2 separate regions of the Homo sapiens genome follow, and region 1 is linked to region 2. The links come from fine-mapping of genetic effects on gene expression. A gene starts in region 2. The other region holds a variant in brackets. All regions are shown on one strand. Distances are between the middles of the regions.

Region 1 (5,394 bases), 22 kb before region 2:
TGGCATGATCTCGGCTCACTGCAACCTCTGCCTCCTGGGTTCAAGCAATTCTCCTGCCTCAGCCTCCTGAGTAGCTGGGACTACAGGTGCCTGCCACCACGCCCAGCTAATTTTTTTAGTATTTTTAGTAGAGAAAGGGTTTCACCGTGTTAGCCGGGATGGTCTCCATCTCCTGACCTCGTGATCTATCCGCCTCTGCCTTCTAAAGTGCTGGGACTACAGGTGGAGCCACCATACCTGGTACATTCTTTTTTTTTTTTTTGAGATGGAATCTTGCTCTGGTACTCCGGTTGGAGTGCAGTGGTGCAATCTTGGCTCGCTGCAACCTCCGCCTCCCAGGATCAAGCAATTCTCTTGCCTCAGCCTCCCGAGTAGCTGGGATTACAAGTGCCCACCACCACACCCGGCTCATCTTTGTATTTTTAGTAGAGATGGGGTTTTGCCATGTTGACCAGGCTGGTCTTGAACTCCTGGCCTCAAGTGATCCCCCCTATCTTGGCCTTTCGAAGTGTTGGGATTACAGGCGTGAGCCACAGCACCTGGCCAAATTCATCTTTTAAAAGTTGCTTAATCCCGGCCAGGTGCAGTGGCTCACTCCTGTAATCCCAGCACTTTGGGAGGCTAAGGTGGGCAGATCATGATGTCAGGAGTTCAAGACCAGCCTGGCCAATATGGTGAAACCCCCATCACTACTAAAACAATGCAAAAATTAGAAGGCCGGGCGTGGTGGCAGGCAGCTGTAATCCCAGCTACTCGGGAGGCGGAGGCAGGAGAATCGCTTGATCCCAAAAGGCAGAGGTTGCAGTGAGCTGAGATTACACCACTGCCCTCCAGCCTGGGTGACAGAGTAAGACTCCATCTCAAAAAAAAAAAAAAAAAAAATTGCTTAATCCCAGGTTTGGGTTTTCTGTCCTTGTGGCTGAAGGGACCCTGAGTGAAGGCTGCAGACTCATCAGGGGCAGATGGAAAAATACCAGGATTGAGCCTCTCAGAAGTGATGCTTGAATCCAGTCTTCAAAGATGAGGACTCCGGCAGGTGACGTGGCAATAGCGTTTTGGAGGGACCAGTCCAGATACACAGGCATGGAGCCATGCATTTGTTCCAGAAAGTGTATTTGGATGGAACCGGAACATGGAACAGGACACACAGCAGGATGCGGAGCAGTGTCAGATGAGGCCAGAAAGGTGGGTGGGACTGGTCTTCAGGGGCTCCAGATGAGGCTGAGGGGCTGGGCCTAGGTCCTGGAGTGGGGTCAGCTCTGGGACCCTTCTGGGGCTGTGTGGGGAAGGGGCTGGGGGCCAAGAGGTCCAGGAGGAGGCTGGCGATGAGATGGCTGGAAGCCAGGGGTTCAGGGAGGCCCAGGCTCCTGGTATCAGGGTTCACCGGCTATACTGAGGATCCCCTGCCCCTGGCACCCAGCTGTGGAGGGGACACTGTCTTTGAGGCATCACTGGTTCCACAAAAGGTAGGGGAAGGTCTTGAGGGACCACCCCATGCCCTCATTAATCAACCAGAAGCTTGGCCCGGAGCAGCAGCGGGGATTCCAGTAGCTGTGGGCATACAGGATGCTAGGGCGGCCACAACCCAGGCAGCTGAGGCCGAGCCACCTAGGAACGCAGGCTCAGAGCAGACCCTCTTGGGACAGACGGAGAAGGGGAGGGGGCGGGCTTCTCTAAGTTAAGCCGATCACTGAGCACCTCACTGGACACGAGAGAAGGCAAGCCCCTCGGAGGACAGAAGGGAAGAGCCACAGACTTGGAGGCTGTGAAAGTGGAGACAGGTGGACCTGGGGTGGCAGCAATGCGTGAAATGCCAGGCCGTGCCCCCGCCCCAGGAGCCCAACATGACACCAGCCCCCAGGGAAGCTGACTGTGCCACTTCATCCAGCGCCCATCAGTCGCCTTGGAGCATCAGGAATCCTGAGGGCTGGGGTCCCGGAGGATCACAGATGCTGGGGCACCTCAACCTCAGGGAGCCGCTCGAGAAGTTTCTTTTCTGAAGTGTCCACCTCCTTCTGGTCACCGGCTGGAGCTGGGACAGGTACATCGTCTGGAAATGGAGGGAGGGAATGGTGGCACAGGACATCCGAACCCCTCCTCCCCCAGGACCCCAGAGGCCCAGCCCCTCCTCCCTCACACCCAGGGGTCCAGCCCCCAGCCCCTCCTCCCTCACACCCAGGGGTCCAGCCCCCAGCCCCTCCTCACTCACACCCAGGGGTCCCAGCCCCTCCTCCCTCACACCCAGGGGTCCCAGCCCCCAGCCCCTCCTCCCTCAGACCCAGG[A/G]GTCCGGACCCCCAGTCCCTCTTCCCTCAGATCTGGGAGTCTGGGCCCCCAGTCCCTCTTCCCTCAGATCTGGGAGTCCAGGCCCAGCCCCTCCAACCTCAGACCCAGGGGTCCAGCCCTGCAGCCCCTCCTCCCTGGACTAGGGCCAGCACCTGTGTCTGGGTGGAACTTGAGCTGCCCCTCAGGGTGGGCAGCCGGGGCCTTGTGGCCTTGCTGCTGCTGCTGCTGCTGCTTCCGCTGCTCCATGTGCAGCACAGCCTGTGGGAGGTGGGGGGTCACACAGACAAGAGGGTGTGATGCTGGCATTGCAAGTGCTCAGGCCTCAGTCCCCAAACGGAGACTTCACAGCAGCCTGCTAAGTGGTCACGGCCAACCCCTTCTCCGTGGGCCTCAGTTTCTCTCTTTCATTGACAGTCGGGCTTAATAATAGTCAAGGATCCAGTTCTCCCTCCAGTCACAGCTTGGGTCTTGCTTTGGGACAGGGAAACCCTCACCCATCCCTGGCTGAGTCTGCCTTTCTCCCCCTCCTGGGCCTTTCCCTCCTCACTTACAGCCTTAATGCCCTTATCTCACATGGCAGCCACAGAGCCGTCAGAGACGGGAAAACGTCTGCCCTTACTCAAGATGGCGGTGAATACTTGAGGCTCCCCCAGTGATTAACATGGTGGCCACAGGCCTTCCCAGCTTCTGGACACCCATGGGGACACGGACACGGGCAGCCAGAGATTCAGTGGATGGAAGCAGCTTCCCCCGCTGTCACCTGCTGCAGCTCTCTCTTCTGGGCCTCCAGGCGGCCCTGGGACCGCCCTAGAGCCTCTGTCTCCTGGCTGAGGCGCTGGGCCTTGGCATTCAGCTCTGCCTCCCGGGCAGCCAGCTCCTCTTCAAAGCGCCTCAGCTCTTCCTCGGTGTAGGCAGGGTGCATCTCCACTGTCTGCAGGGCAGGCACAGGGGCCATCAGGGGCACAGGTCCAACCTCGGCCCACCCATGTTGGAGAGGGTTGTGCCAATGGGGGAGGTGTAGAGGAGGCTGGGAGGCCAGGGCCATGTGGGTGGGCAAAGAAGCCCAAGTGGGAGGTGGGAGTGGGATAAAGACCGAGAGACAAGGCCGGGCACCATGGCTCCCACCTGTAATCCCAGGACTTTGGGAGGCGAAAGTGGGAAGGATCACTTGACGCCAGGAGTTCAAGGTCAGCCTGGGCAACGGAGCGAGACCCTGTCTCTACAGAAAATTGGCTGGGCATCTTGAAAAATATATAGAAATAGGCCAGGCACCATGGCTCACACCTGTAATCCCAGCACTTTCGGAGGCCGAGGTGGGTGGCTCACCTGAGGTCAGTAGTTTGAGATGAGCCTGACCAACATGGAGAAACCCCGTCTCTACTAAAAATACAAAATGAGCAGGGCATGGTGGTACATGCATATAATCCCAGCTACTCAGGAGGCTGAGGCAGGAGAATTGCTTGAACCTGGGAGGTGGAGGTTGCAATGAGCTGAGAATGCACCATTGCACTACAGCCTGGGCAACAAGAGCAAAACTCTGTATTGAAAAATAAACAAACAAATAAATAAATAAATAAAACAGAGACCTAGATTAGCTGGGCATGGTGGTATGTGCCTGTAGTCCCAGTTACTCAGGAGGCTAAGGAAGGAGGATCACCTGAGCCCAGGAATTCAAGGCTGCAGTGAACTATGATTACACCACTGCACTCCAGCCTGGGTGACAGGAGACCCTGTCTCAAAAAATATTAATAAATAAATAAAAGAATGAGCTAGATTAGCTAGGCATGCTGGCATGTGCCTGTAGTCCCAGCTAATAGGGAGGCTCAGGCAGGAGGATCACTTGAGGACAGGAGTTTGAGGCTGCAGTGGGCCATGATAACACCCCTGCACTCCAGCCTGGGTAATCCCAGCACTTTGGGAGGCTGAGAAGGGTGGATAGCTTGAGTCCAGGAGTTTCAGAGCAGCCTGGCCAACATGCAAAACCCTGTCTCTACCAAAAAATACAAAAATTAGCTAGGTGTGGTGCGGTGGTGCATGCCTGTAATCCCACCACTTAGGGAGGCCAGGTCAGGTGGATCGCTTGAGTCCAGCAGTTCTAGAGCAGCCTGGCCGATATGGCAAAACCCCATCTCTACAAAAAATACAAAAATTAGCCAGGCATGGTGGCTCACGCCTGTAATCCCAGCTACTCATGAGGCTGAGATGGGAGGATCGCTTGAATCCAAGAGGCGGAGGTTGCAGTGAGCCGAGATCCCACCACTGGGCTCCAGCCTACGCGACAGAGCAAGACCCTGTTTCAGAAAAAAAAAAAAAAAAAAAAAAATCACACCTCTAATCCCAGCACTTTGGGAGGCCAAGGTGGGTGGATAACCTGAGGTCAGGAGTTTGAGACCAGCCTGGCCAACATGGTGAAATCCTGCCTCTACTAAAAATACAAAAATCAGCTGGGTGTGGTGGCACGCACCTATAATCCCAGCTACTCAAGAGGATGAGCCAGGAGAATTGCTTGAACCTGGGAGGTGGAGGCTGCAGTGAGCCGAGATCGTGCCACTGCACTGCAGCCTGGGCGATGGAGTGAGACTCCGTCTCAGAATAAATAAATAAATAAATAAATAAATAAATAAATAAATAAGAGTCCTAGAGACAGGGGAAAACAGAGACCCAGAGATAGAGATGCAGTGACCCAGGAGAATGGACGGGGACCCAGAGAGAAAGAGAAGGGGCCTAAGATTCTGAAAGAAAGGTCATGGCTAGAAGAGAGAGAGGTTCAGGACCCCGAGTATCCCCCATGTTCTCACCTCCCAGCCCTCCCCGGTGTCCCCAAACTCCTTCCTCTGAGTGGATGCGAGGAACTCCTCCAGGGTCACGAGGCGGTCCTGGTTGGTGTCCACCTGGGGAGCCAGATAAGGGTGAGTGACAGAGCTGGGGGCCCGTCCTCTCCCCCGCCTGGCCCCCACCTCACATTCTTCATCACATGCTCCCGCATGCGCAGTCGCTCCTCCTCCATCTCCCGCATGTCGTCCTCCTCATTCTTTGGGTCGTACACTTTCTCCAGCTGCAGGAGCAAGCGAGAGGCAGACAGCATTGAGAGGTCCCCAGCGAGCTCATTCC
Region 2 (5,241 bases):
GCAGTCCCAGCTACTCCAGAGGCTGAGGCAGGAGGATCGCTTGAGTCTGGGAGATGGAGATTGCAGTGATTGCACCACTGCACTCCAGCTTGGGTGACACAGCAAAAATAAAAAAAAAAAAAAAAAAGAAAAAGGAAAAGAAAAAATGAGGTGGCTCATGCCTGTAATCCCACCACTTTGGGAGGCCGAGGCAGGCAGATCAAGAGGTCAAGAGATCGAGACCATCCTGGCCAACATGGTGAAACTCCGTCTCTACTAAAAATACAAAAATTAGATGGGCGTGGTGGTGTGCGCCTGTAGTCCCAGCTACTCGGGAGGCTGAGGCAGGAGAATCACCTGAACCTGGGAGGCAGAGGTTGCAGTGAGCCAAGATTGCACCACTGCACTCCAGCCTGGTGACAGAGCGAGAAAGAAAGAAAGAACTCAACTCACGCCTCCCTTCCTCCCTGACTGTCACCCCTGGTGTTCACTCTCATAGAGCCCTGCCCTTTGTCTTCCATCTCCCAGTGAGCAGGGATAGTCCATGGGCATGGGGCATGCACATGGCTGGGCCCTAACAACTATGCAACACATAGGCAACACTATGCCCGGCTCATAGAAGGTGCTCAGGAAACATGTGGAATGGAAGAAAAGAAATGGGACTCAACAAAGCCTTCCTGGGTCTGCAAGGATTTCACAGAATAGAGGCCTAACTTGCAGCGTGGGGACCAGGAACATGCAATGATCCGTTCCAGGGGGTAATGACTAGCCCATTCTTTGTTTTTTGAGACAGTCTCAGAAAACAGAGTCTCAGCTCTGTTGCCCAGGCTGGAGTGCAATGGCGTGACCTTGGCTCACTGCAACCTCCACCTCTCTTGGTTCCAGCACGAGAATTCGTGCCTCAGCCTCCCAGAGTAGCTGGGATTATAGGCGTGAGCCACCACGCCCAGCTAATTTCTGCATTTTTGGTAGAGATGGGGTTTTGCCATGTTGGCCAGGCTGGTCTTGAACTCCTGACCTCAAGTGATCCGCCTGTCTCGGCCTCCCAAAGTGCTAGGATTACAGGCATGAGCCACTGCGCCTGGCCTGACCAGCCTATCCTTATGGGGAGCTATAGGAAGATTCGGACCACAAGACACTCACTGACCTTCAGGATCTCCAAAGTTCCAAATCCCTTAAGACCAAAGCTTTTATTGGGTTTGATAAACACATGTAGGAATTAATAAACAAGCAGTTCACCCGCCCTTCTGTAATTTAAACTACAACTCCCAAGAGCACCATGAAGTCAGAATACCCCAGCTAGCCAACATCAACTGCTACTGGGAACTAGCAACATGGTGCTACTGGGAAATGTAGTTTTGTTTGTTTGTTTTCAAATTCCTTCTTGGGTGGAGAGAATCTTAAAAAAACAGACGTTTAGTTGGGGCGTGATGCAGATTTTCCACACCTCAGAGTCAGGGACCTCCAGTTTTTCACCAAGTCAAACCCCTGCTGCTGGGAGGAATGGTGGGCAAAAAACAAGCTACAACTGTAGGGCCAGGAAGTCACTGGAGCATCCGCCCTACGGGCACCGGGGTCTGCAGGAGCTGTAGTACCACTGCAAACACCTGGCTGGATAGCAGGGCAGGGCCACTCACGGGACTCTCAGTCGCAGGGGTCTCCTCCTTGTTGGGCGCCCCTCGCTCCAGGGGGACAGCCAGCACGGCGCGAAGCAGGAGCAGCAGCAGCAGCGGCAACAGAAGGAGGGTTCCTCGGGGCCCAGAGGGAGGCATGGCAGTGTGGTCTGTGGGGGATGGAGGGCTGGATAATGCATAATGTCTGTCCCAAGCCTCTTCCTCCCCTGGAACCAGGAGTTCGGGCCCCCAGCGCCGCCCCCACTTCCAAGAATCAAGACACAAGCATTTTGTTACCCAGGCCCCAGGATTCCAGGCCTCCGGCCTTCCCTTCCTCCGACACAGGAGTCTGGGCCCTCAGACCCAGGGGTCCTGGCTCCCAACACGCTCCTCTCTCACACTCAGGAATCCGGGATCTCGGCCGCCTCCTCCCCCAGACCCAAGAGTCCAGGGTCCCAGCCTCCTCTTTTCCCAGGACCTAAAGTACTGGCACCCAGTGCATCCTCCTCCGGGACCCAGTTTTCCAGCCCTCTGGCCCCCATCCTCCCTAGGACCCAAGAGTATGGGAACCCTGGCCTCTCACCTCTCCTTCACCGCAGAGGGCGTTTTCCAGGGCGGGCAAGGACCTCCGGTGCGTTCTTGGTGACTTCCCCCCTAGACCACGCCCACTTATCCACAGAGGCCCCGCCCCAAAGAGGTCTGATTGGTCCACGCTGGCTCTGTAGCTTTCATCCACGTCCAGCGGCCCCGCCCCTTGCCGAAGCCGCTCGCATTTTCGTGAAAGCCTCGCTTCTTTCTCGGAATCCCAGCCTCTTGACGCCACATTTCCCGCCTATGCCAAAAGAGAGAGAAGGCTTTCAAAGATAACTACAACTCCCTGCCGGCCGGGGGAAAAATAACTTCCGCGGGCATCGTGGCCCCTTCGCCTCATGGGAGCTGTAGTTTTCCCATTTATTTTCGCCCCACGAAGTGCCTGGAAGTTATAGCGCGGTAGCAATTGCATAGCCTTTCTTATGAGTTTCTTTCTTCTTCTTCTTATTATTCGAGACAGGGTTTGCTCTGTCACCCAGGTTGGAGTGCAGTGGCGCAATCACTTCTCACTGCAGCCTCTACCTCCCAGGCCCAAGCAATCCTCCCGCGTCAGCCTCCCAAGTAGATGGGACCACAGGCCACACTACCATGCCTGGCTAATGTATATTTTTTAAATTTTTAATACAAATATTTAAATCTTTAATTCTTTTTTAGCCTTTTTTTTTTTTTAACGTTCTGTCTTTCACACTTCTCACACTTTGTTGTTGTTGTTTTTTAAAGAGACGGATGTCAAGCCGGGCTTGGGGGTTCACTCCTGTAATCCCAGCACTTTGGGAGGCTGAGGCAGGCAGATCACCTGAGGTCAAGGGTTTGAGACCAGCCTGGCCAACATGGAGAAACCTCGCCTCCACTAAAAATACAAATTAGCCAGGCGTGGTTGCGCATGCCTGTAATCCCAGCTACTCAGGAAGCTGAGGCAGGACAATCTCTTAAACCCGGGAGGCGGAGGTTGCAGTGAGCCGAGATCGCGCCACTGCACTCCAGCCTGGGCGACAGAGTGAGACTACGTCTCAAAAAAAAAAAAAAATCTCTGTGTTGCTGGTCTGGATCTGGATCTCCTGGACTCAAGCAATCTTGCCTCCCCGTCTCCGCCTCCCAAAGTGCTGGGATTACAGGCGTGAGCCACTGCGCCCCGCCTCTTTTAAGTTTCTTGTAAGCGAGATGTGTACAGTGAGGCCGCGAGGTCTCTGGTCTCCCGCTCTCTCTCTCTCTTTTTTTTTTTTTTTTTGAGACGGTGTCTACCTCTGTCACACAGGCTGGAGTGCAGTGGCGCGATCTCAGCTCACTGCGAGCTCCGCCTCCCGGGTTCACGCCATTCTCCTGCCTCAGCCTCCCGAGTAGCTGGGACTACAGGCGCCCGCCCGCCACAACGCCCGGCTAATTTTTTTGTGTATATATATATATTTTTTTTTAGTAGAGACGGGGATTCACCATGTTAGCCAGGATGGTCTAGATCTCCTGACCCCGTGATCCGCCCGCCTCGGCCTCCCAAAGTGCTGGGATTACAGGCGTGAGCCACCGCGCCGGGCCGGTCTCTGGTCTCTTTAAGGAACCCCCACACGGCATTCGTGTTCAGAACCCCCGGAGCAGGGTTGCCTGGCTGCATCAGTGACCGAGTTCGTTACTTTGTTGGAAGTGGAGAGTGGAGGGTCAGAAGGGAGTGGACCAGTTCAGGTCCCAGAGGGAATCCTCCCTCCCTCTGAGCCGTCTTTCTTCTCCTCCCTATTTCGCAGATATCCCGAGATTAGGTCCCCAGCTTCCAAAGAGAGGATCAGGTATGTTTAGAGATTGGCCAGAGAGGCAAGGTACCGAGGCATCAATGTGAGCAGCCTCTCCAGGCACCTGGTGAGGAGAACAAGTCTCCCGGATCCCAGGCAGGTGGGCAGTGGAGTTCTAGGCCGCTGGGGGCTGGGTGTTTGAAGTGCACAGTCCTGAGTTCTGATGCCTGGGTGCTGGAGAATTAGATATTTGGGGGAGAGAGAAGCGGACTTGCGGACCCCCGTGGGAAGCTGGAAACAGGCTACTAGATCCCGACAGGAGTGGGTGCTGGGATTCGGGCTGCCTGGGTCCGGAAGCAAATTTAAAGGTAAGGATCAGGCCGGGCACTGTGGCTCATGCCTGTAATCCTAGCACTTTGGAAGGCCAAGGCGGGCAGATCACCTGAGGTCAGGAGTCCGGCACCAGCCTGGCCAACATAGTGAAAACCGGTATCTACTAAAATACAAAAAAATTAGGCAGAATAGCGGACGCCTGTAGTCCCAGCTACTCGGGAGGCTGAGGCAGGAGAATCGCTTGAACCCAGGAGGTGGAGGTTGCAGTGGCCGAGATGGCGCCACTGCACTGCAGCCTGGGCGACAGAGCGAGGCTCAGCTGTCTCTAAATACATAAATAAATAAATAAATAAATAAATAAATAAGGCTAAAGATTAGGTGCTGGTGGGCAGGATCCATTGGGATGTTGGTTCTGATCCTGACTCCTCATTCTTGCTTCTGCAGAATGTCTCAGGATAATGACACATTGATGAGAGAGTGAGTAGGGAAACAGATGGGTAGGGGTGGAGGTGGAAAGGGCTGGGGACCCCGTGCACTCGGCTCTGGCTTCATAACCATGTTTGCAGGTTCAGCACCATCGGCCTTGCAGGAAGGGGCTGGGGACCTGGACTCCTGTGTCCTGAAGGGATGGGGCTAGGGTGCAGACTTCTGGGTCTGAAAGAGAAGGGGTTGGGGGCCCCAGACTCCTGAATCCTGAGACAGGAGGGACCTGGGATCTCTGGGTCCCGGCTTCTGTGGGCCAGTGCCAGGAGAAAGGGCCCTATAACTGGTGGAGCAGGCTCAGGTTCTGCACCTCCTGTGACCTCACAGGTGCCCAGAACCCAAGCTGAGATAGGGGCAGGATGGGGGAAGGAGGGACTCTCTTGGGCAACCGAGGTTCCCTGTGCACTGTCACCATGGGCCTGTGTCTCTCTCAGCATCCTGGGGCATGAGCTCGCTGCTATGAGGCTGCAGAAGCTGGAACAGCAGGTATTGTGCCCAGGAATCTCACCACTCCAACTCTTCCG

Evidence for each region. PIP is the estimated chance that this variant, and not a neighbour inherited with it, causes the effect.
Region 1: its variant is fine-mapped to the expression of NUCB1 in tibial artery (GTEx, PIP above 0.99). The same link has a PIP of 0.9 or more in aorta, esophagus muscle, gastroesophageal junction, sigmoid colon and subcutaneous fat.

What each region holds. Positions count from the first base shown.
Region 1 is chr19:48,918,974-48,924,367 of GRCh38, reverse strand. It overlaps NUCB1 (nucleobindin 1), which reads right to left. Exons shown (of 13, transcript NM_006184.6): 9 at 5,246-5,338; 10 at 5,082-5,174; 11 at 3,044-3,214; 12 at 2,436-2,541; 13 at 996-2,050. The coding sequence ends at 1,944. Among named protein-coding and RNA genes, the nearest start is that of NUCB1-AS1, 2.8 kb to the right of the region's middle. RefSeq lists enhancers at 1,133-1,632, 4,779-5,278. The variant A/G (reference allele first, on the strand shown) is at 2,284.
Region 2 is chr19:48,897,307-48,902,547 of GRCh38, reverse strand. It overlaps NUCB1 (nucleobindin 1), which reads right to left and starts at 2,236. Exons shown (of 13, transcript NM_006184.6): 1 at 2,176-2,236; 2 at 1,617-1,762. The coding sequence starts at 1,751. It overlaps TULP2 (TUB like protein 2), which reads left to right and starts at 3,804. Exons shown (of 13, transcript NM_003323.3): 1 at 3,804-3,958; 2 at 4,679-4,711; 3 at 5,152-5,203. The coding sequence starts at 4,680. RefSeq lists a cis regulatory region at 3,060-4,059 and an enhancer at 3,594-4,409.